Linked DNA regions of Homo sapiens: region 1 is linked to region 2. A link means that fine-mapping ties the variant in region 2 to the expression of a gene that starts in the linked region. Tissue or cell type: esophagus mucosa. Region 2 holds a variant in brackets; the other region holds the start of a gene. All regions are shown on one strand. Distances are from middle to middle.

Region 1 (10,256 bases), 28 kb before region 2:
CACTTTTCTCCCAAGCCTTCTTCCTAGGGATCTGGCCTAAACACCAGCCAGCACTTCAAAGATCATCCACCCCGCTCAGTACTCCTCCAGTGCACCAGCTTTCCATCACATGTACACAGCTTAAGGACCAGAGAAGTCAGTTATTCTCCATCTGCATATGGTATTCTAAGGAGCCATTTAAAATTATGGTTTTGGAGGTCATTTTACATGGAAAGATGTTTACAGGATGGTAAATGAAAAAGCAAGTTACAAAATAGTATAGCTATTAAGATTCTGTATTATTTAAAAAAAAAGACTTATGTATAGGCATAGAAAAAAATGTCAGGAGAGAAGGAACAAAAAATTAGTACAATTGTTATATCTGGTATAGAATGAGAGGCGATTTTTATTTTTTAATTTTACTATCCCTATTTTCCAGCTTTTCTACCATGAGCATGAATTATTTCTACAGAATGGTTCCAAAAATTGTCTGCTTGTCCCCCTCTGGAAGAGGGGGCCCTACTCCCTTCTCCCCTTCCCACCTCCTGTCCCCTCCTCCACCCACTGGGACACTGCCCTCCTCGAGGCCAGAGAACACTTTTCTCTCTTCAAAGATTCTCTTCTTGACCAAACTGAGCTTTGAGCTCCTGAACCTTCTCTTAGACCTATGCATGCACTTCCTTGTAAAATCCAGTTTTAGGAAGAACGTGGCTAAGTCAGGTTACCAACATCCTCCCACCCTGCCTATCTGATCACCCTCGATATCCAACTGGGTTCCCCCTCCTCCACCATCCCCAGGTGATGTCTGACCATCCTGGCCCATCTTCAGCAAGAATCCTGTTAGGTCGGCATAGCCAGAGTCCCCCCATACTCGTCTTAGTAATGTTCCAGCCACCACTCCCACCCTGTTCCTTGGCTATAAATTCCTACTTTCTCATGCTGCATTCGGAATTTAGCCTAGTTCTATACTGGGGTCTCTTACCCCTATTGCAGTAGTCCCAAATAAAATCTGCTTTCACCACTTTAACTACTGTTCAGTTCTGTGGGGTTTTTTTGTTTGTTTTTCTTGAACACCTCCTTATCTTCCTGGATGTTCAGCAGTGTTTGGCATTGCTGATCACACCCCAGTCTCTTCCTGAAACACTCTTTTCCCTTTGTTCTGTGAGCCCACTCCCTCCTTCTTCAGGATAAGATGTGAGCTCCTTTGCATAGCGCACAAGGCCCTCTATGCTGCGGGAACACAGGCTCCTCTTGCCCTCTGCTGCCTCCTCTCCCAGCAATCCTTCCACATATTCTTCTCACCAGCTCCTCAGATACGCTCTGGTTCTATCAAGACGTACTAGGCTGAGCATGGTGGCTCACACCTGTAATCCTAGCACTTTGGGAGGCTCAGCAGGGCAGATTGCTCGAGCCCAGGAGTTCAAGGCCAGTCTGGGCAACATAGGGAAACCCTGTCTCTACAAAAAACACAAAAATTAGCTGGGCATGGTGGCACACACCTGTGATCCCAGCTACTTGGGAGGCTGAGGTGGGAGGATCACCTAAGCCCAAGGAGGTTGAGGCTACAGTGAGCTGTGATCATGCCACTGCGACAGAATGAGACCCTGTCTCAAAAAAAAAAAAAAAAAAAAAAAAAGACAAGCTGCCTTCCTAGTACACATTTTACCTCTTTTCTTCCTCCTCCTCAGTCATCCCTGCATCCCCTATGGAGCAGTTTTTATGTCAGGCATTATGTAAGTACTTTACAACTACACCAACAGGAAATCCACTGCAGAAAACCCCCACTTAGAGTGATTTAGGCATTTATGCAAGGAGAACTTTGTAGAAAAAGTCCAGGGCGTGTATGCAAGCTCATATGCCATCAGCTCCCCAGGCTTGTTCATCCCTAACATGGTAGACTCCAAACTCATGTCTGTGCCTCCTGCTCCCATGATGGCTGCTGTGTCTCCAACACTGTATCCCCTTCCCAGGTAGAAGACAAGGAAGGAGCGAAGAGTTTTCTCCTAGCAAGATAAATCCTCCACAGGGACTTAAGTATATGTGGTCAGTTATGTCACATGGCCCCTTGTAACTGAAATGGGACATGTGTTTTACTTCTCCAGCCTCTATGGTAATAAAAACCAGGAAGAAGGGGGTTGTGAATGGCTTCCGGTTAGCTCATCACCAATGCCTGCCATACATTTCATCTTGTTTCAGTCTCATTTTACCTCATGTAATTCAAGCAATGTTATGATTTAAAGGTTTCTGTTACGTGCATTTCACCAGTGAGAAAATCAAGTCTCAAAAAAATAATACCTACTTTTTACAACCCAGGTCTGCCATCACCTCCTCCTGGCAGAATTCTTTGTATGCCCAACCCTAGGCTGAGTTAGTTATGTGCCCTCCTCTGTGCACCATAGCACCCTAGGCGTGCATCCTTGTTGAAATCTCCAGCTGTCCTAGAGTGGCCTGTGAGCCCCTGCAGTGGGCTGTGAGCCCCACAGGATAAGGCTCTGTAGCCCCCAGGCCTGGGGAGATAACAGGCCTGGAGCTGTACCTATGAGTGTTTGCTGAGTGACAAGCAAGGTGGTGGCCCTGCTCCATGTGGATGTGCCCAGACCCTGGAGCTCTAAAGTATCACATTAGGGAACAGAGACAAATTATAAGGTCCCAGAAGACCCGAGCCACCATGGGAAACGTTGGTGCATGGCTCAGCCAGAGTTCAGAGCACCCCCTGCAGGCTGCGGGTGTCTCTCAGTGACCACAGTGTCCTGAGGCCCAGTGACTTCCTGGGTGGAAACTGAGGCCTGGAGTGTTCCTCCCAGGGCAGTGAGAAAGAGAGAAATAGAAAATCCTTTGCAATGTGGTTTGTGTTACCGCAGCTTCAGCCATGGAAGGGGCTCCTTGAATTAAACAGGAAGCAGAAAATATCAGATTTAGATCCCACATTCCATGCATTGTATACAATTACGCGCTGGAGCCATAGAGGGGCACGTGGGACCCACAGAGGCAGAAAATGGGATTGCTGTTGGGAATGGGGTCGTTCTTTCATGGGAAACCAGTTGCATTCTTGACAGGTGGGCCGAGTCTTCCTGAGGTGCACACTTCACAACCCCAGGGGCACAGGTGAGGCCCTCTCATTTGCTTACAAGGCATTGGTGACAGACATGCTACCAGCTCCCACAATGATGGAGAGTCCCCTTCTCTGCAGCCCCCCAACACCGCTGCATATCTCTGGATTGTAGACCATCCTTGGTGGGCTCACCCCAACTCTCAGGCTCAACAGCCTCCTTTTTACCCATGACTCCTATGTCAGTCTCCAGCCCAGGTCGGCTTCCTGAGGCCCAGGGCCATAAACCCAATCGCATCAATAGGTCCAGCCCTTCAAACACTGCCTGTCTGAAACAGAACCCATCATCCTACCAAAAATATGCTCCTTCTCCAGGTGCCCTGCCACAGAGAATGATACCAATGTCCAGCCACTCACAAGAGCCAAACCATAGTGGTATCTTATCTCTTCCCGCCCACACCCATTGGATTCCCAAGTCTTGACCAACTCCTTCTCCTAAGGCCCTCTTACCCGTCCCCTCTTCTCCACCTGGGTGGCCATCACCCTAGTTCATGGGACCATTGTCTCTTGTCTGGATTGTTCTGCAGTCCAGCTCATCTTCATACCTTCAACATGCTCCAAAACCCTGCCCACGCCCTAGCTGGCCCAGCCACTCCTATGTCCCTGACCCTCTGATGGCGCTGTGTTGGCCTCAGGATCAGGCAAAGCCCTGGCCTTGGTGCACTAGGCTGTCCACACCCTGGCTCCTGCTGGCCTCTTCCCCCTGTTCCCTGGTGTTCCTATCCTGTCGCTAGGGCTTTGCACGTGACATTCCTTCTAATCTATTCTATCCATATTTCTTCAGGTTTTCCCTTGGACTTCAGCTCCTTTAGAAAGCCTTTCCAGACCCCCACCCACTCCCCATGTAGGAGGGCAAAGAAGTCCACTGAAGGCATCTAAAGTGTCTTATTCACTGTGTTTCTGTCTGTTGGATAAATGTGAGTGCAATGGTGACTGCTCGACTGCCTGGCACTACACTCAGACTCCTGGAATGCTGAAGCCTATACTGCTTTCTGTCCAGACCCTGAACTCCCTTTCTCTAAAGTAGGGCATGCCAATTTAAACAAAACACGGAGGACCATTTGCAGCCATGAACACGGCCCTGCAGACGGACAGGCCGATGAGCAGCAGAGCAGACAGGGGTTCCCGCCATCATCCCAGCTCTTCACTGCAGCCTTCAAGGGTCTCCCTCAGAACTTTCATTCATTGTCATACTTCATTCATGATTGCTCATCTTGCCTATAAACAAATCTGAGACAAATAATAAGGCATATCAATGTCCGTATTTATTCAAGAGATACATTGGGGAAAGTCATTTTTCAAAATCTTTTACTGTAGGATTTCTTCACTAAAATCTGTAAAAACTGGTAGATATTGTTGGTGATGCTGGTGGCGGTGGTTGATAGGCTCAGGAAACATGGCTGACATCGCCCTGCCGTGAATTCTGGTATAGTTAAGCCCAGCTTCTCTTTCTTTTTGTCACTGGGGCTCTGGGTGGAGGGAGTAACAGAACAGGGGCAGCAGTTTGCACCTTCTGCTGGCCCTGTTTGCAGACTCAGCTTTTCTTTCCCTGGGCTACGTTGGCAGGTGATACGATCTCTCTGTTCCTCACCCCATGGAGAGGTGAATCTAAAATGAGTGGGTCTGTTAGGGTCTGCATGTCTGTACGTTCCCCTTCTGAGGGGAACTGGCTCCTGGACCCCGTTGCCCTGCTCCAGCTGGGGACCCAAGTGCAGCCATCCCAGGCAGGCCCGGCCCCGGGAGGCCTCCACCAGGGCTCTGCCAAGCAGCAGAGGCTGCCTCTCTAAAGATCCCCTGTCGGGAGAGTGCCTGCCATTTATGGAGCGGGCAGGCAGTAGGAACCAGATAGGCGAGCTAGCTGGAGGCAGCAAGCTCAAGGGGACTGGGCTGCTGCGTGGCGTTCACTGTGCAGCTTGAAGAAGACCCCACGAAGCCTGGACAGAGCCCCAGCTTGGTAAATATTTGTTGACCGATCGGTTGAATGAAATGGTCTTGGGGCAGAGGGGGAGTGGTTTTGTAATGGGGACTGGCGGCGGAAACAGCAGAGTCCCGTCTCTCTAACGGCTAAACTTTAGCGCAAAACAGACACACCGATTAAGGTTCACCGTGTGCCAGGGCCAGGCTGGGCTTCTTCTAGGTGGTTGCGGCGGGCGCGGCTCAGCCTGGGTGCTCCGGAAGCTCCGAGCAGCGCAGGCCGACGGCGACCGTGCGGGACCCGCCCAGCCGCGCTTCCGCCCCGCCTCTGGCCACAGGCGCGAACTGCGCGGCCGCTGCCACCAGGGGGCAGGCCAGGGCAGCGGGAGGCAGGGCGGGGACGCGGTGACGCGGGCACTGCCGGGTCCCGTGACTGCGCGCCCCGCCCGGAGTCCCCGCCGCCGTCATGCAGTCCCCGGCGGTGCTCGTCACCTCCAGGTGAGCCAGACCCCCGCGCCCCACACCGCACAGCTCGCAGTCCGGGGCGCCCGGGCGGAGAGGCGGGGGGAGGCCGCCGCCTCCTAGGCCAGGGACCTGGTGCAGGTCTCCCCAGCGCCCTCGGTGGCTTATCCGGGCTGGGCCCCTGCACCGCCCTGCAGGAGAGGTGGCGACCCCGATTTACAGATGAGGAAACCGAGGCCCTCTGGAGGGTAGAGAACTAGCCAAGGACAGCGGGAGCCCTGGGACTGACTGGTTCAGTGCAGGCGGGCGCAGTGGGGACTCTGCTCTCCTTTCCTACCGCCTTGGGTTCTTCTCTTTTGAGCCCGAAAATCTAGTTCCCCATCCTTTCAGAGCTCCCTGAGTCCCAGGCCCGGTGCTGGGCACTGGGGACAGAGGCGAATCAGACAAGCTCGCCCTGCAGGGGGCTGCAGCGGAGAGGGGGTGATGCCAGCAGCGGGTAGTAAGCTCAGGTTGCCATGGGAACACAGTACAGGGCAGGAACCCGGTTTCTGGGAGGATGAGTTTGATGAGAGACCAGGGAGAGGTCGTTGCTGCTTGCGAGGCAGCTCAGGAGAGCGCAAGTTACAGCAAAAGCCTTGGAGGGGTCCAGGCGGAGGATGCAGAATGGGTCGGCCCTGATCGAGACCTGGAGGACCCAGCCCAAGGTGGATCCTGGCAAGGCTGGGAGGCACGTGCTTTTACTTCTTTCCGCCTTTAAAACGCTGTAAAGTGATTTACTTCAAATATTTTCATACACTTCACCCTTGCTCTCCCTACACAAAGTCTTAGGCTAAGATGCCAATTTATGACATAAATGAACGTGTTACCCAGCCAACTGTTGATCTTCCAGTTGTAATCAGGAATTCCCCGTGACTTCAGGTCTAGAAAGGTATGATTCCTTTTGTAAACCCTGATGTCGGAGGCTGCTTGGTCTTTCATGATCAAGTGTGGTTACAGTTGTATCTTCATGGGCAGAAGAGGTTTCCCTACTGCCACTTACGTCACCTCCTCTCACCAAGCCTCAGTTTCCTTTTCTGTGAATTGGAGGTTTCAGATTGGCAGGCATGAGCAACGTCAGTAGTATATGCCCCTCAGCCATGTGCAGATGGATGGGGTGTGACTTTGGTGCTGGGTGCTTGGGATGGGGTGGGTGGCTTCCCTCCCTGCCCCGCTGCACAGCCTGGACGTGGCTTGTTAACAGATGTGGGGGCGCTGGCGGTGGTAAGGCCACATGAGTCAGGCTCATTTCTTGCTGAGGGCACCAGCACACCCAAGGATCTTGCCTGCAGGGTGAGTCCAAACGCCTTAGCCCAGCAGCAAGGCCGGCCCTTCCCAGTCGCACCCCAGCTCCTCTTTCCAGCCCGATCTCCTCCCACATGTCATTGCCACATGCACTCAAGCTTGAATTCAGCCAGAAGGTGTTTATCGAGAGCCTTCTCTGTACCGGGTACTGGCCCTAGTTCTAGGAGACAAACAAGTCCCTCTCGTAGAGCTTTAATGAGGGCACAGGCCCAGTGGGCAAATCTACGACATGTCAGGGATGATACATGCTATGAAGGAAAACAAAACAGTGGGGGCAACAGAGTGGTAGGAGGCATGCATGCTGTTTTCTATGGTGTGGTAAAGAGGCATCTTTCTGATGGAGTGGCGCCTGGACAGATCCCGGACAAGCTCCATGAGGGAGAGAGCCATGAAAAAGAAATCTTGGAAAAGTGTGTACTGGGAGGACAGGACAGCAGGAGCCAGGGTCCCGAGGCTGGTATGCTGGAGTGGAGTGAGCCCAGGGAGAGTGTTAGGTGATGCGGTGAAGAGGCAAGCTTGGGAGTGAAGGATGATCAGGAAAGGCCGAGAAGGCTGTGGAGGGGCCATCAGATTTAATTTCAAGTGCAATAGGGCCCAACTTCTGGTTTATAGAGATCCTTTGGCTGCTATGCTGAGCATGGGCAGTGGCCGAGCTGAGCATTCAGGACAGGCTTGTAGGTTTCCATGTAGAGCCGGTGGTGGCTTGGCCCGGGGTGATGGCGGCCGTGAGGGTGAGAAATGTTTGGGTTCTCGATATATTTTGAAGATTGAGCTTTCAGGTTTGCTGATGCTTGGATATGGGGTGTGAGAACAAGAAGAGAAGTTAAGACTAACGGCAAGTCTCTCAGCCTAAGCTGCTGGAAGAATGAGGCTGCCCTTTAGCAGGCTTGGGGAGAGGTAGAAGCAGCATTTGTGTAGACAGGTGAGTTTTGAGAAGCTCGTTGACAGCCCAGTGGGGATGTCAGGCAGCTGCAGCTGGAAGGAGGCTGGCTGTGAGGGGAGAGTGAGCTAAAGATGGGAGTTGGGGAGCCATTGGCTCGGAAATGGTATTTAAAGCCTGGAGCCTGGATGAGATCACCTGGGGAGGGGTACAGTGAGAGGAAGAAGGAGGGTGCTCTGGATGCTATCAAGGGGAACCATCCAAAGCAGTTCCTCTCCTCCTGTTTGAGCAAGAGTGGCCAGGGTGGGCAGAGAAGAACCAAGAGTGAGGGGGTGCTCCAGCCACCAGTGAAGGCAGAGCTTGAAGGAGGGGAGTGGCTGACTGTGCCCACTGCTGCTGACAAGTCAGACCAGAGGAGAAATGAGGATTCACCTTTGGATTTAACCACATGGAGGTCGCAGATGACCTGGGCGTGGGCAGTTTGTTGCATGATGAGGACCAAAGTCTGGCTGGAAAGGGTTCAAGATCAAACAGGAGGAGAGGAACCCATGAATATGGGGCCCTCTGTTGAGGAGTTCTGCTGGAAAGGGCAGGAGGGAAACGGAGCAAGGGGAATGTCGGGTCAAAGCACAGCTTTTGTTACATGAGTGGTCAGAGCATGGTTGCATGCTAATAAGCGTGGGCCAGTAAGGAAGGAAAATCGATGGTGCGAAAAAGAGGGGTGAGCTGCAGCAGCTATGTCCTTCAGTAGGTGGGAGGGCCTCGGAGCCGCTGCCCTGGTAGAAGGTTGGCCTTAGGAGCAGCCAGCCAGTTTGTCTACAGTCCCAGGAGAGGGCAGCTATCAGGGAGCAGCTGCAGGCTGATGGGCAGATGTGACAGCGAAGCCTAGGATGTTCTCCGATGGTCTCTGGAGCAGTACACAGCAGTGTCCACATCACTTGGGAATTTGCTAGAGATGGTGAGGGCACACCCCGGGGCCTGCAGAACCAGAATCTGCATATTAACAGGATCCCCAGGGGGTTGCACGCACATTACAGTTGGAGAAGCTTGGTCTAGGGCACATCCTGCCCACCACACCCCCATTTGTTTATGTACTCTCCGTAGCAGCTGCAGCAGAGACCAGATACCCTACACAGCCTGAAATATTTGCTATCTGACCCTGTAGAGAAAGTTTTCCTATGGGTTCAGGGAAGTGGGAGGGTGATGGAGTAGGCCCAGGTGCATCAGACTCGTCGGAGGGCTTACTAAGAAAACAAGATGGCTGGCCACCCTAGGCCCGAACATGCCTTTCTTACAAGTTCCCAGGCGATGCTGATCCTGATCCAGGGACCACACTTTGAGAACCCCACATCTAGGGCAAGGTAGGGTTGCCAAGCCTGGTGTGGTGCTGTGCCTTCAAGTCTGCAGCCATGAATTTCAATGGGACCAGGCTGCATGTTTACACCATGTCTGTCCCCAGTCACGTTGAGCCACTTGGGCACAGGGTGAAGGAAGCAGAGAACTGGAGAAGTGGGCTTTGACCAGGCCAGCTCAGCTCTGGGTAAGAAGTCAGGGGAGCTGGGCCTAAGGCAGAGGGATTCCAGCAATGGAATGGGACCCTGGAAAAGGGGTGGGGTTATGGATTGTGGGTTCTGGCGTGGTCAGAGAACCATTGGATGTGGGGTGCTGTGAGGGAGCTGGATCGTGGGAGGTGCCCATCTGGGTCTGCTCCATCCCTTTCCCACCCCTGAGAGGACCTCCCCGCAGCTCAGGCACTGCCCTTCTTGTCACTTTCACCCCCCTGTGCCTCGTTTTCATCATGATCCTAAAGAAATGATGCCTGGCTTCTTTCTCATGCCTGCCCCATAAGAGGCCACCTGGGCTCTGGAGCAGCTGCCTGGGATTGAACGCAGCTCCACCTCATGCCGGGTGAGACCTGGGCAGGCACTTTCCCTTTAGGGGTCTGTTTCCCTGTATTTTAAGTGGGTCTGGGTAGCAGAGCTCCTTCGCAGGGTTGCAGGAGGCGGAAGTGACTTCACACAGGTGCATCCCTAGAGCCCAGCGCGTCTCCCCTCAGCATCCAGCCTCACCTTCCTCCTCCACACTGGTGGCAGTGACACCGTGGGTGACACCAGGCCGCGCGTGCACACTGCGTGAACTCGGTGCCGTTGGCAGAGGGCTGGCTGTGCGTGTGCACCTCCCAGTGCCCATTCGGCCCTTGCTGCACTTTTCACCACCTGAAGGCAGGTTGCCTGGGGTGCCCTACGCCGCGGGAGGATATTCCTTGTGTGTACAGCACTCAGTCATTGGGTGTCATACATGGCATAGGAGACGCATCACTGTAGGCCTCACCAGTTGGTGACAGCAGCGTTGTGCTGGTGACAGCGTGGCCTAGCGTGGGATGTGAGGGGTCCGTGTGGGAGGAGTGCTGGGGCAGGGGGATTTGATGGATTGGGGTATAATTCCAGAGAGGGAAGGGCCTTGCCCCAGACACAGGTTAAGCTCCAGAAGCTCCTCCCGTGTTTTCAGGGTCCTGCCCAGCACACAGGAGGTCTCACCTCGATGGTCAGAGCTGCTCAGAGGGTGCCCCAC
Region 2 (11,073 bases):
AAGAGGAATCTGGGTTCCCAGTTATGTCCTAGTCACGCCCGCTGCAGACCCTCACAGTGTGACTCTCAGGTCCTGTACCCAAGATGCTATTTAACTCCATTCCACCAAGTTCACTTCCTGTCTCCACATCACCTCCTCCAAGAAGTCCTCCCTGAGCCCTCAGGCTTGGTTGGCTCTGTCCTCTGTGCTCTGCCGTGACAGAGCGGAACACCCTGTGTGCTAATGAACAGTTTCCTTTTTTTTTTTTTGAGACAAAGTCTCACTTTGTCACCCAGGCTGGAGTGCAGTGGTGTGATGTGAGCTCACTGCAACCTACATCCCTGGGGTTCAAGCGATTCTTATGCCTCAGCCTCCCGAGTAGCTGGGATTACAGGCATGCACCACCATGCTACGCTAATTTTTGTATTTTTAGTAGAGATGGGATTTCATCATCTTTGCCAGGCTGGTCTCAAACTCCTGGCCTCCCGTAAACTTTTTGCTTTAAACTAAAGCACTTTTCATATTTTATTCTTAAATTCACCCACCTCAGCCTCCGAAAGTGCTGGGATTACAGGCATAAGCCACCTCACTCGGCCATAATGATCAGTTTCTATGTGACCCTGCTCTGCCATGAGCTTCTGGGGACAGCGGCGGCTCGTCCTCATCTTTGTTCCCTCGTCCCCAGCACAGGTTCTTGCAGGTGGGAGGTTCTCAGTGAGTGCTCGCCATCAAAGGTGCCCACGAGGGAAGGAATGAGTTGCTCATAGAGTGGCTGAGGGCCTGGTGGCAAGCCCAGTGGAGTCGGCCAGGAGATCTTCGGAGGAGGGGCTTTCGCACATAGGGCGCTGTCTGAGACTGGGGTTGGGAGCCTATCCCTCTTCCCTCCCTGCCCCTCCCGCCTTGGGGATTAACAGAATCCTGAGATGGAGATGTGCTGGCACCCTGCTCCCTGCCTACCTGTCCTCCACCTGTCCATCCCTCCTCCCCTCCATCCATCGCGCATCCTCTCATCCAGAGTTTATCAAGGCATCTGTTATGGACCAGGCACATTACTAAGCCCCCAGAGGCTGAAAGTTTTGGGCCGCTCAGGATAGGACCCTGGGGCTTTTAGGCACCAAAACTCCATATTTCCTGCTTCTTCCTTGATTCCCCTGAAGATGGGTCTAGAGAGTTGGGGAGGTAGAGAAGGCAGCCCAGGCAGCATGGGTGGGTGGGGGTAGGGTACAGACCATGCCTGCTGGAGCCGCCCGCGTGTGCTGTAGATCCACTTTATTTCAGTTCAGGACAACAAAAGGGCAAACATGTCTCTAGGGAGAAAAACAAGGACATGATCCAGTTGGAGGAGAAAACTCACATGGAAGGAAAGTTAGGCCTCTTGTGTGCTGTCCAGACCAGGTGCAGGCGTAGGAAGGGGCACCACGGCTTCTCCAGAGAGACCTCCTCGCGCCTGTTCTCTCTCGCTTCCCTTGTTCCTCAGATGGCTCGCTTCCCTCTCTGCGCCCTCTGATTTCTGGTCAATGCAAAGCCTCTTGCTCCCCTGCCCCGAGGGGCCCGTGGCTGGTTACATGCAAGTTCAATCCCCAGGAGCCAGGGAGGGCCTGCTTGTTTCTGAGCAGACAGTGTGGGGTGTGGCATGGAGCTGCTGCTGGGGGAGGCTGCAGAGCAGCCTCAGACCTGCCCTCCCTGAGAGCTGCCACCTGGGTAGGGGCCGGGGTGGCTCTCCACCCTTCCCCACCGCAGTGCCTGCTGGGGCCAGGAGCAAGGGCCACGCAAAGGGCGGCAGAGATGGGGAATGAAGGGGAGAGAAGCATCGGGCAGAACAGTGGCTGCGAGCCTGGCTGACCGTGGAATTCCACAGGAGACTGAACACAGCCTCCTGGGCCTGCTTGGGGTTTCCGACTCAGTGGGTCTTGGCTGGGGTCAGCTTTGCTGTCTGCCCCAGGAGGCCATGGCCCTTGTTTGGTACCCACTTCCTAGGAGTCATGAGAGCCGAGCTGGCTCTGCCTGATTGGTAAGAATAAAGGGGAGAATGTCTGAGTAAGAGCAGGCGAGCCCTGGCTCCTCCAGGTCTCAGAGGAGCAGAAGCTGAAGATTTCTGGAAAGCACTTGCCCTTAGGGTGGAGAATCGAGGCTCCCTCCACCTCACCTCCAGCACCACAAGCAGGGCCTGAGGGTGGTGCACAGCAGAGGAGGTCCCTCATGGCCTGAGCTGGGTGGAGAAAGCACAGGACCAGGCAGATGGGCCTTCTTGGAGCAGTCCCTGCCACTGCGTCTCTGCTCCCCATCACTACCCTTGAAACATGCCACTTTCTCCCCAGAGAACAGCAGGATCAATCCTGTTATCCCTGCGCCATCCTATATCACCTTCCTCATGGGACATTTGGAGGGGACAAGAGGATAGGACCATGAGTATGACCATCCTCAATCTAGACCCAGCCTGCCTGTCCCTTCCCTGCTGTGTGGCCTTGGGCAGACACTCAGCTTCTCTGGACCACTGTTTCCTCATCCAACAAACGAGCCCTGCAGAGATCCTTCCCCTGGGACTGGGCTCTGAGCTCAGAGGATGCTCTGTCCTGCAGCCTTCCAGCAGGGAACCTTCCAGCAGGGAGCCTTCCTGGCTTTCATAGTTTCTCCTCGCCTCGGCTGGGTGCCTGGGATTCTGCCAGACCTCAGACTCCAGACTGTGGGAATGGTCACCTTGCGGGGACCTGCCCCTCCAGCACCCAGGGCCATTCTGCTATTTTTATCTGCCATTGGTTAATCTGTATCATTGTGTAGGCCAGCCTCTCGGTGCAGTTTTGCCGCAGCGTGTTACCAACATGAGCTCAGATGGTGACCTCACATAGTGACCTCAGTCCAGTGGAACTGCCCGCCAGGCGGACAGGCACACGGAATTTCAGTTTCCAGTAAAGAGCATATTCTCATTATTTTCAGGAACCTTAAAATGGCTAATAGACATCATCAGCAGGGATTGAATGCCTGTTAAAGTAATTATTAAAGTAAAATCAAGTGTGTTTACTTACTGGCGGTATCACTTACAGTGACGTACACAGATCCTGAGCATTCAGCTCCATGCGTGTTTACTTATCCAGCCCGTAACTACCGCCTGGATCAAAACTAAAGTACTCCTACACCCCAGAAGCTTCCATCCTGCCCCGTCCTGGTTTCTTACAGCAGGGTCTGGCCCAGAGCAGGACCTCCTCAGCCAGTCGGCAAGTGCACTGTAATGGGACCTGGGGTGGCAGAGTCGGAGCCGGGGAGGTGGGCAAGTCCCAGAGAGGCTTCCTGAAAGAGGGGGGCTGCTCCACAGAACCCAAGTGTTAACTAGAACAATGGTGGTTTTACCATGCAAAGGAAACAATAAGGCACTTACCAAAGCTGCTTTCTGCCCTCCTGAGTCCTAGCCCTGAGGTTTGTGGCTCAAGACCAGGTCCATCCCCATTTCTGAGTGGCTGTGGAGTGTGGTTCTCTGAGCCTGGCCCCCAAGTGCTGAGACCCTGAGACCAGGCAGCTGTCTCTACCTTCCGAATGGGAGTGTGATCTCTGGCCTGTGACCGCATGGCAGACTCAAGGCCTGAAGGCGTCTAAGAGCTGGGGTTGTCTGGCAGCTGGTGCCCGGTCCTGGCAGCCGCCTGCTCCTCCTGACAGTGGTCATTTCTTGAACACAGGGCACAGCTGCCCACAGTAGCGGGGGCCTTACCACTCTGTCATTGGGGAAACCTGCTTCTCAACCACCTTCGCTGGCCTGCTTTTCTCCCCTGGGATGGAGGACCTGTCCTTCCCTTGGCCGTGTGACCATCTGTTAGAGATTTCAGAAAGACTTCAGCTCCACCTGCCTGGACTGCTCTGGGTGGCCCCCTCCAGGACTTCCCTGGTCCCTCTGGCCTGGTCTTTTCTGGCCCATGGCATCCAGCCCCTCCACTGCAGGGCCCAGCGCCTGTGTCGGTCTGACCGGACCACCTGGACACTTGTGGGAAATCCTCACCTTGTGCTTTGTCTGTGATTCTCCAGCTCCAAGAAGCCCAAGAAACATCCCAAAGTGGCCGTGAAAGCCAAGCCCTCGCCCCGGCTCACCATCTTTGACGAGGAGGTGGACCCTGATGAGGGGCTCTTTGGCCCGGGCAGGAAGCTGTCTCCACAGGACCCCTCGGAGGACGTGTCATCCGTGGACCGTAAGTAGAGCCCCATGGTCTGCTCCTGGTGTCCTCTCGGTGCCCAGCCCCATCACCAGGCAGGGTCTGGACTCACCCGGCGTGAATAGGACCCATATATCTCCCCTGTCCTGTTTAGATGTGATATAGACTCAGCTTTGTGCTTCCATGACATCTGTGGGCAGATGTGGGCCCTGGGCTTCCAGGCACTGTTTGTGTGGTAAGCGATAGGGCCTGCCTAGGGCACATGTGTGACTGTAGGTTTGGATTTAATGGGACTCTGTGTCGCCTGCATGGACTCTGCTGGAGGGCTCTGTGCAGAGTTGGCAGAGGGAAAACCGAGCGGCCTTGGGACATCTCCACTCATCCCTTGGTCCCTTTCCTCACATGCCCAGGTCGTCCTCCGGTGAGGGGAATTGATGCCACCCACTAATTCAGCCCATACTTGGTGAGCCCTCACTGAGGGCCAGGCCCAAGAACATGCTGAGGAGTGAGACCTAGTCCCTGTCCCTAGTCCCTATCCCGAGGGCCCCGGGGGCCCCTGGGGAGACAGGTCATTGCCTGACAGTTACAAAGCAGCACCAGTTATGACAGGTTGAGCAGAGGCATCAATTCCTGTAGGACTGCCCAGAAGACTTCCTGGGGTGGGGCAGAGAGAGAGCAGCCATGGCATCCCAGCCTAGAGGCTTCCTCTGACCCCCCTGCTGCTGCCTTCCCACAGCCCTGAAGCTATTTGATGATCCTGACCTCGGCGGGGCCATCCCCCTGGGTGACTCCCTCCTGCTGCCAGCCGCCTGTGAGAGTGGAGGGCCCACACCCAGCCTCAGCCACAGGGACGCCTCCAAGGAACTGTTCAGGTACCACCTGTCCCCAGCGGCGCTTGGCCAGCTCTGAGAGTGTTCTGGACAGAGCCAAGGGCCCGGCTCATTGCCCAGTCTCAGCCCCAGCCTCCTCTGAGGGGAGGACCCCAGGCCTGTGAAAAGTAGAAGCCTGTGGGTGCACATTGGGTGAGAGGCGGTGAAGGGGGCTGAGGGGGAGGATCCGCAGCCCAGGGCTGCTCAGCTAGTTCCAGAAAGAGAGAACTTTGTGTGCACAACCAGTCTTTCTTTTCACAATCATATTTTAACAGTTTATGTAAAGAATAATTAAATTATATAATTGCAAGAGCAGGTATAACTGGCATAAGCAAGTTTGGGAACAAATTAAACGGACTCATGGCAGCATGCAGCCCACCCAGCGAGGGGGCAAAGTGCAGATGTCTTGGTGATGGCCTCTCTGCCGGAGGGCCCGGTCGGCAGCTTTCACAGAAGGAAGGGAGAATGAGGCCTCAGCTGTCACATGGAGGTCAATTGGCAGAACCTGTGCCGGTGACAGCTCCTATTTCCTGAGTCCTTGCTGTGTACGCAGTAAGCCAGACTCCTTACACGCTCTCTTATGTAATCTTCACGACAGCCCCCTAAGGTGGATGCTATTTTCTCCATATTATAAGAAATCAAGTGTGGGACGCCACCTGGCTAAGACCCCTGCTCTGCCCCTGGCCTGGCCTCTCCACTTCATCAGGGACTGTCTGAGCACTTGGCTGGGTGATCTGCCTCCCCACCCAGCCCCCCAGTTCTCCCCAGGCCTTTACCTCCACTGGCCACATTCTCAGCAGACTCAGTGTTGTGCGTGTCTCCAGCTCCCACTCCATGCTCCAGGACACAGGACTGTGCCTGGGATTCAGAGGAAGCCAGGCCGCCTCTTTCCAGGAACGGCTTATGTGACACCAAGGCATGCAGGCCCTGGAGGCTGTCATCTGTACCCCTCATTAGCAGCCTCGGGCTATTAGACAGCCCTGCAAGTGCCCGCCAAGCCTGAGTCACCGTGACGGCTTCTGGTATTTACATGTCCCCAAGGCCCCTGGCATCTGTTCACTCTCATCCTGTGTCCTCGCTCCTGACATCCCAGCGGGCTGGAAGAAACCAGGATTGTTATTTTATTAGAGGGAAACCGAGGCACAGGGAAATGAAATACTAGAGTCTGCCTG[C/G]GGAGCAGCAGGGCCAGGCCGAGCATGTCTAGGAGTCCATGTGTCCCAGTGGGGTGGCTCTCGTGGGACCTTTCTGGCCTAGTTTATTCTAAATCCGTTACTTCCCAACCTGTGTTCTGCAGAACGTGGTACAGTGGGGTGGTCAAAGGCTATCTTCAAAGGGGCTCTGTGGCTGATGAATTGGGGAAATGCCACAAAAAGCAGGGCTCGTAGTGCGCGGGCCAGCACCACATGGCACTTCACGTTCTCATTCATCCCTGGGCCCCCCACTCTGTGGTGCCCCTTAGCATCCCGCAGAGCGCTTGGGGAGTCCCTGCTCAAAAAGTGTGGGTCCCGCACCCCCACCTTCACTTTAGCAGACATCTGCTAATGAAAGGATTAACTGCTTTTCTTTTTTTTAAATTCAGACAAATTCAAAAAGAGCCGTAACACTGGGATTAGCTTCTTGAGAGCAGGAACCACATTCATTCTTTGTGTCTGCCCTGTGACTATCCAGGGAGTAGTTGGACTTCCTCATAATAAAGAATGTTCTGATAGCCATTCATTCATTCATGCTTTCACCCCTTCGTTCATTCTGTCACTAGCCTCAGCCACCCTGAGGCCGCGTGGGGTGTACACTGAGCGGGTCGAGGCTAAGAAGGCTTTGTTCCTTCTGGCTGTGCAGCCACACCAGGGCAGGGCCTCTAGTCTAGATGTTTAGGTGAGTCTTGTCTTCCGCAGGAACCCAGGGAGAAGGAATGGGGCCAGGGTCTTAGAGCTCCCTTACCCCCCACTGGTTGACCTCACACCAGCTGGGCCTGGAGGAGAAAAGAGCTGGACCTTGCGCTAGTGAGAGCTAGTCCTAGTCATGACTCAGAAATAGGGTGCTTGGAAAAGGGGTGCCTTGCAGCCTCCTGTGTCCCAAGAGCAGCTATGCTGCCTCCCACCGTGGCTGACCACCCGTGTACACCACCCACCTGGGAGCAAATCCAGCTGCTGATTAGTTCCAAAGAGTCACTGCTTTGCCAAGCAGGCTAATCCTGAAATCTGACATAAGCCTCTAGCGGCTGCTTTATTTTCCAAAGGGCCCCTATTTGAGGATAATTCAGTCCCTTTGAGCTTTTCCCAGGTACCCTCAGCCTTCAATGGAGGCTGCATCATGCCAGTGGAGCTGGCACCTGCCCTGGGGGAGTCAAGGAAGGGCTGCCACTTGGAGGGAGCTCCGGAACATCTGACCTGAGGTGGCCAGGAGCAGACTGGCCATGAGTGACACCTCCTGAAATCACCTCTACCCCAAGACAGCTGGTCTGTCTATGAAGGCCCGGCTTGGGCCAGTCCCTCTGGGTTTGTTCAAGAAGGACACCTTTTATTCATTTCTCTGCCATCCAAACAGACTCTGAATTCTCTCTCTGGGGTTTGTGCCCCATCACAGGAGGTTGAGCCAGGAAGCAGGCAGGGTGTCCGGAGCTCCTTCCACAGCTGGCTCCAGGCAGGCATCCACCCCTGGGGGTGCTGTGCTGGACACCTCCATACTCACACAGGCTCTCTGGTAGTGCCAGGAGTTGTCCTGATCAGAGGTATCGCCTCTCTATCCCCACCCCTGCCCGGCCCTGCCCCAGGGCAAGAAGCCGCTGCTCATGAGCCTGCCTGGTTCTTCCTGTTCATTCTCATTCCCACCTCCAGACCTCTGCTGTCTGCTCCCTTCTTCAGAATTCTCTCCCCTATTCATGCCAGGCTCACCCTTCTGAAAAGACCCACCTTCCCAGGAGGCCTTCCCAGCCTGCTCTGGCCCAAGGGCTCACTCCCTTCTCTGGACTTCAACACCTTCTTTCCAGGCCTTTGCAATTATGTGGCCCCTGTCTGACTGGGCTGGGGGGTGTCCCTCATTGTAGGTGGAGGCACTGCTTTTCTGTGTCTTATGCCCACTTGCTCAGCCCCTGTGGCTGTCAGTAGACATCAGTACATACAGCCTTCCTGTACATTTGGAAACTACTTTCCTTGTGTTGTCTTATTTGATCCTTGTAAGAATCCCTGTGAGGATGGTAGAGCAAGTACAATCCCACTTTATAGAAGAGACTGAGGACCAGGGAGGAGGAGTGGCCTGAGGCTGCCTGATGGAGGAGTTGCAGGGTGAGGAACGGAAGCCAGTTCTCCTCCTGCAGTGCTGTGCTTCTGTGTACAGTTCCGTGCAGCAGTGCCAGTGACACTGTTACTCCTGCTTGTAGATGAGGAAGCCGAAGCTTGTAGAGACCAAGTGGGTGCTACAGGTCTTCTGCCTTCACTCACCTGATTCCAGCATGGCTGAGCGATAGACGTAGAGATGCCCGTTAGCACAAGGGAAAACCTCGCCGTGACACTGGAGTCTAGGTGCCCCAGCCAGGGGAACACACCCCAGAGAACCAGCCACATGCAGGCCAAGTCCTGTTCATCCTCACACTAGCTGTGGGTCTCAGGGCAAGGCCCTTTGCCTCTCTGCACCTCAGTATTCTCAGCTGTAAAACGGGGCTAATCTCTGCGACCACACAGTGTTTGGAGATTATTGAATGGGTTAATGAATGTGGAAATGTCTGGCCATCACGGGTGTTCAGCACAGAGCTGAGTGGGTGGAATGGATTGAATGAGTCTTCCACTGTGCATCTGGTCTCCAGAAATCAAGTTCTGGAGAATCAGTGGCCTGGCCTGTTTCTTGCCCTCAGTACCCAGGGATGGTCCTGAGTGACCGTAACACTGCCAGGGCTTTTTGCCCACCCACCAGTGGGAGATTAGAGGTCTGGGGTCATGACAGAGTCTTGGTGGGCCCTGGCCGAGGCCATCCTCAGCTCTCACTGGGTTCCGTCTGGCACCCGTGTGGCCCACAGCGGGGCACTGTGGGCGGGCCAAGCCTGTACCACCATGGCTCAGCGCCCCTGGTTATTCTTTCTCTGGCTGAACTTGCTTTGGATGAGGGCTCAGCTTCTAAGGGCCGATGTCCTGTTCCTTCCAACAAAGGCACTGTCACATACCATCCCCTCGAGGTCACTCGGCCTCCTGGGACTCCAGCGTCCTCATCTGCGTGATGGAAGCACAGTCATGCCTCCCCAGAGTGGCGTTTTGAGGATAAGATATGATAACGTGTCTGAAGTGCTGTACAGAGCGGGAACTCTGTACATAGTAGCTGGTGGTTATTTCTGAAGGGATTGGAGGGAAAGCCCCCTACAGAAGGCAGCGTGTGTCAAGTGGGGTCACCTGAAGAGCAACTCTCAGGAGGCTGCGTGGGGCCTGCCCTGTGCCTGCTTTGCTGTGGGTGGGAGGGAAGGAGAGCCCTGGCCTTCGTGTCTCCTCTGGGCAGGATGGGTGGAGGGGCCAGAGTGGAATGGGGCAGAGCAGGGCGGGGCCTTGACCTGGCCGAGGCTGGGCTCCCTGCCGCTGCCCAGCCCCGTGTGGGCACTGGCATTGCCTGGGGTCTTGTTCCTGTCACGGGGTGGCAGTGTTATGCTCAGGGTTCCTCCCTGTGGTTCCCTAGAGTTGAAGAGGACTTGGACCAGATTCTGAACCTGGGAGCTGAGCCCAAACCCAAGCCCCAGCTTAAGCCCAAGCCACCAGTGGCAGCTAAGCCGGTGATACCCAGAAAACCAGCTGTTCCCCCCAAAGCGGGCCCGGCTGAAGCTGTGGCTGGGCAGCAGAAGCCGCAGGAGCAGATCCAAGCCATGGACGAGATGGACATCTTGCAGTACATCCAGGACCACGATACACCAGCCCAGGCCGCCCCCAGCCTCTTCTGACCCTTCCATGCTGGCCCCTGGCCCAGCAGGCCTGTCTGTGGGGACATCGGTGTGAAGGGAAGGGACTGGGCCCTGCAGGGTCAGAACCTCCCCACCCCCAGGGGAGGCCAGGCAGAAGCCTGGGTCACAGCACCCAGAACTGCATGGTTCCATTTTCTCCGGGGCTGTGGGGCCAAAGTAGAAGCCTGCGGGCTGCGGGAGCGGCTCTCACCCTAGGAGCCAGAGCCCAATGTGTCTTATTCCCCGTGGACATGAAGGGGAGGGAGGGTGTGGGGATGCCTTGCCAACCAGAAGCCCAGCCCCAAGGATGAAGCAAGACATGTGGGGCCGTAGCGAGGTGTCACATGGGGCAGGGAAGCTTCATGCCCACGGGTTCTGCCAGCCCCAGCACAGACCCAAACTGGGGCTGGGCCTCTATCCCTCCTCTGCCTCTGTTCGCATAGTAAGAAGGAGTGACCGGTATCCTCCCCTTCCCCTACCCTAAGCTGTAGCCTGGGTGACTGACTGGCCTGGGCCTGGGGTGGGGACGTCCCCAAGCCAAATTACTCCAGGGCCTCTGCTCCTCGTGGCTGCCAGGGGCCTGCAGGGTCTGGGTGGGTCTCCCAGGAGAGGAATACTGAGTGGGAGATCGGCTGTCTGGAGTGTTCTGATGCAAGTCTCTCTCTCCTGAGCCTCCTCTTGATGCAAGCTCTAAAGGGAGAAGTCAGGCCCTGCCTCTCCAGGGTATAGACGGCCCTGCTAGGCCCCAGTTCTTCCTCCTTCCCCCTTTCCCAGGAAAGGCCAGCCCAGTCCATGGCCTTCTTGGGCCTCTGGGCACAGAGCCAATGTTCGTCATTGCAGCTCTCAGCAAACTGGGTCATAGCTTTCCCCACAGCTCAGCCTGGGGCCTGGGCAGGGCTCCCAGCCTGCACCGCCTCCCACTGCCAGTGGGGCATGATTCTCTCAGGCTTCTGCCCCGAGGCCTTCGTCGTCCTCAGGGTCTGGACTTGGTCAGTGGCCTTTCACCAGTGGAGCTGCCTTCCCAGGGAGAAGGAGCCGTGCGCCAGGGCAGGGCCCGTGCCTTAGACTTCTCCCGACCCCCAGAGCGCTGGTACACAGGTCTAGGCACCACACAGTGCTTTGGAAATTCTCAGTGAATGATGTTTAATAAAGCAAAAAATGTCAAGGTGTCTTTCTT

Which allele goes with the higher level. Alleles are on the strand shown, and positions count from the first base shown. SD is a standard deviation of normalised expression in the study named.
With allele C in place of G in region 2, the expression in esophagus mucosa of the gene that starts at base 5,434 in region 1 is lower (small effect, 0.16 SD a copy in GTEx).

Evidence for each region. PIP is the estimated chance that this variant, and not a neighbour inherited with it, causes the effect.
Region 1: it holds the start of HS1BP3, and the variant in region 2 is fine-mapped to the expression of HS1BP3 in esophagus mucosa (GTEx, PIP 0.92).

The regions. Positions count from the first base shown.
Region 1 is chr2:20,646,276-20,656,531 of GRCh38, reverse strand. HS1BP3 (HCLS1 binding protein 3) reads left to right here and starts at 5,434. Exons shown (of 7, transcript NM_022460.4): 1 at 5,434-5,500. The coding sequence starts at 5,469. It overlaps LOC105373466 (a long non-coding RNA gene), which reads right to left and starts at 5,250. Exons shown (of 2, transcript XR_001739320.2): 1 at 5,180-5,250; 2 at 4,332-4,557. RefSeq lists enhancers at 5,016-5,753, 5,838-5,987, 6,008-6,087 and a silencer at 5,168-5,757.
Region 2 is chr2:20,617,810-20,628,882 of GRCh38, reverse strand. HS1BP3 (HCLS1 binding protein 3) reads left to right here. Exons shown (of 7, transcript NM_022460.4): 5 at 3,991-4,151; 6 at 4,852-4,987; 7 at 9,638-11,065. The coding sequence ends at 9,896. Among named protein-coding and RNA genes, the nearest start is that of HS1BP3, 28 kb to the left of the region's middle. RefSeq lists an enhancer at 10,675-10,784. The variant C/G (reference allele first, on the strand shown) is at 6,157.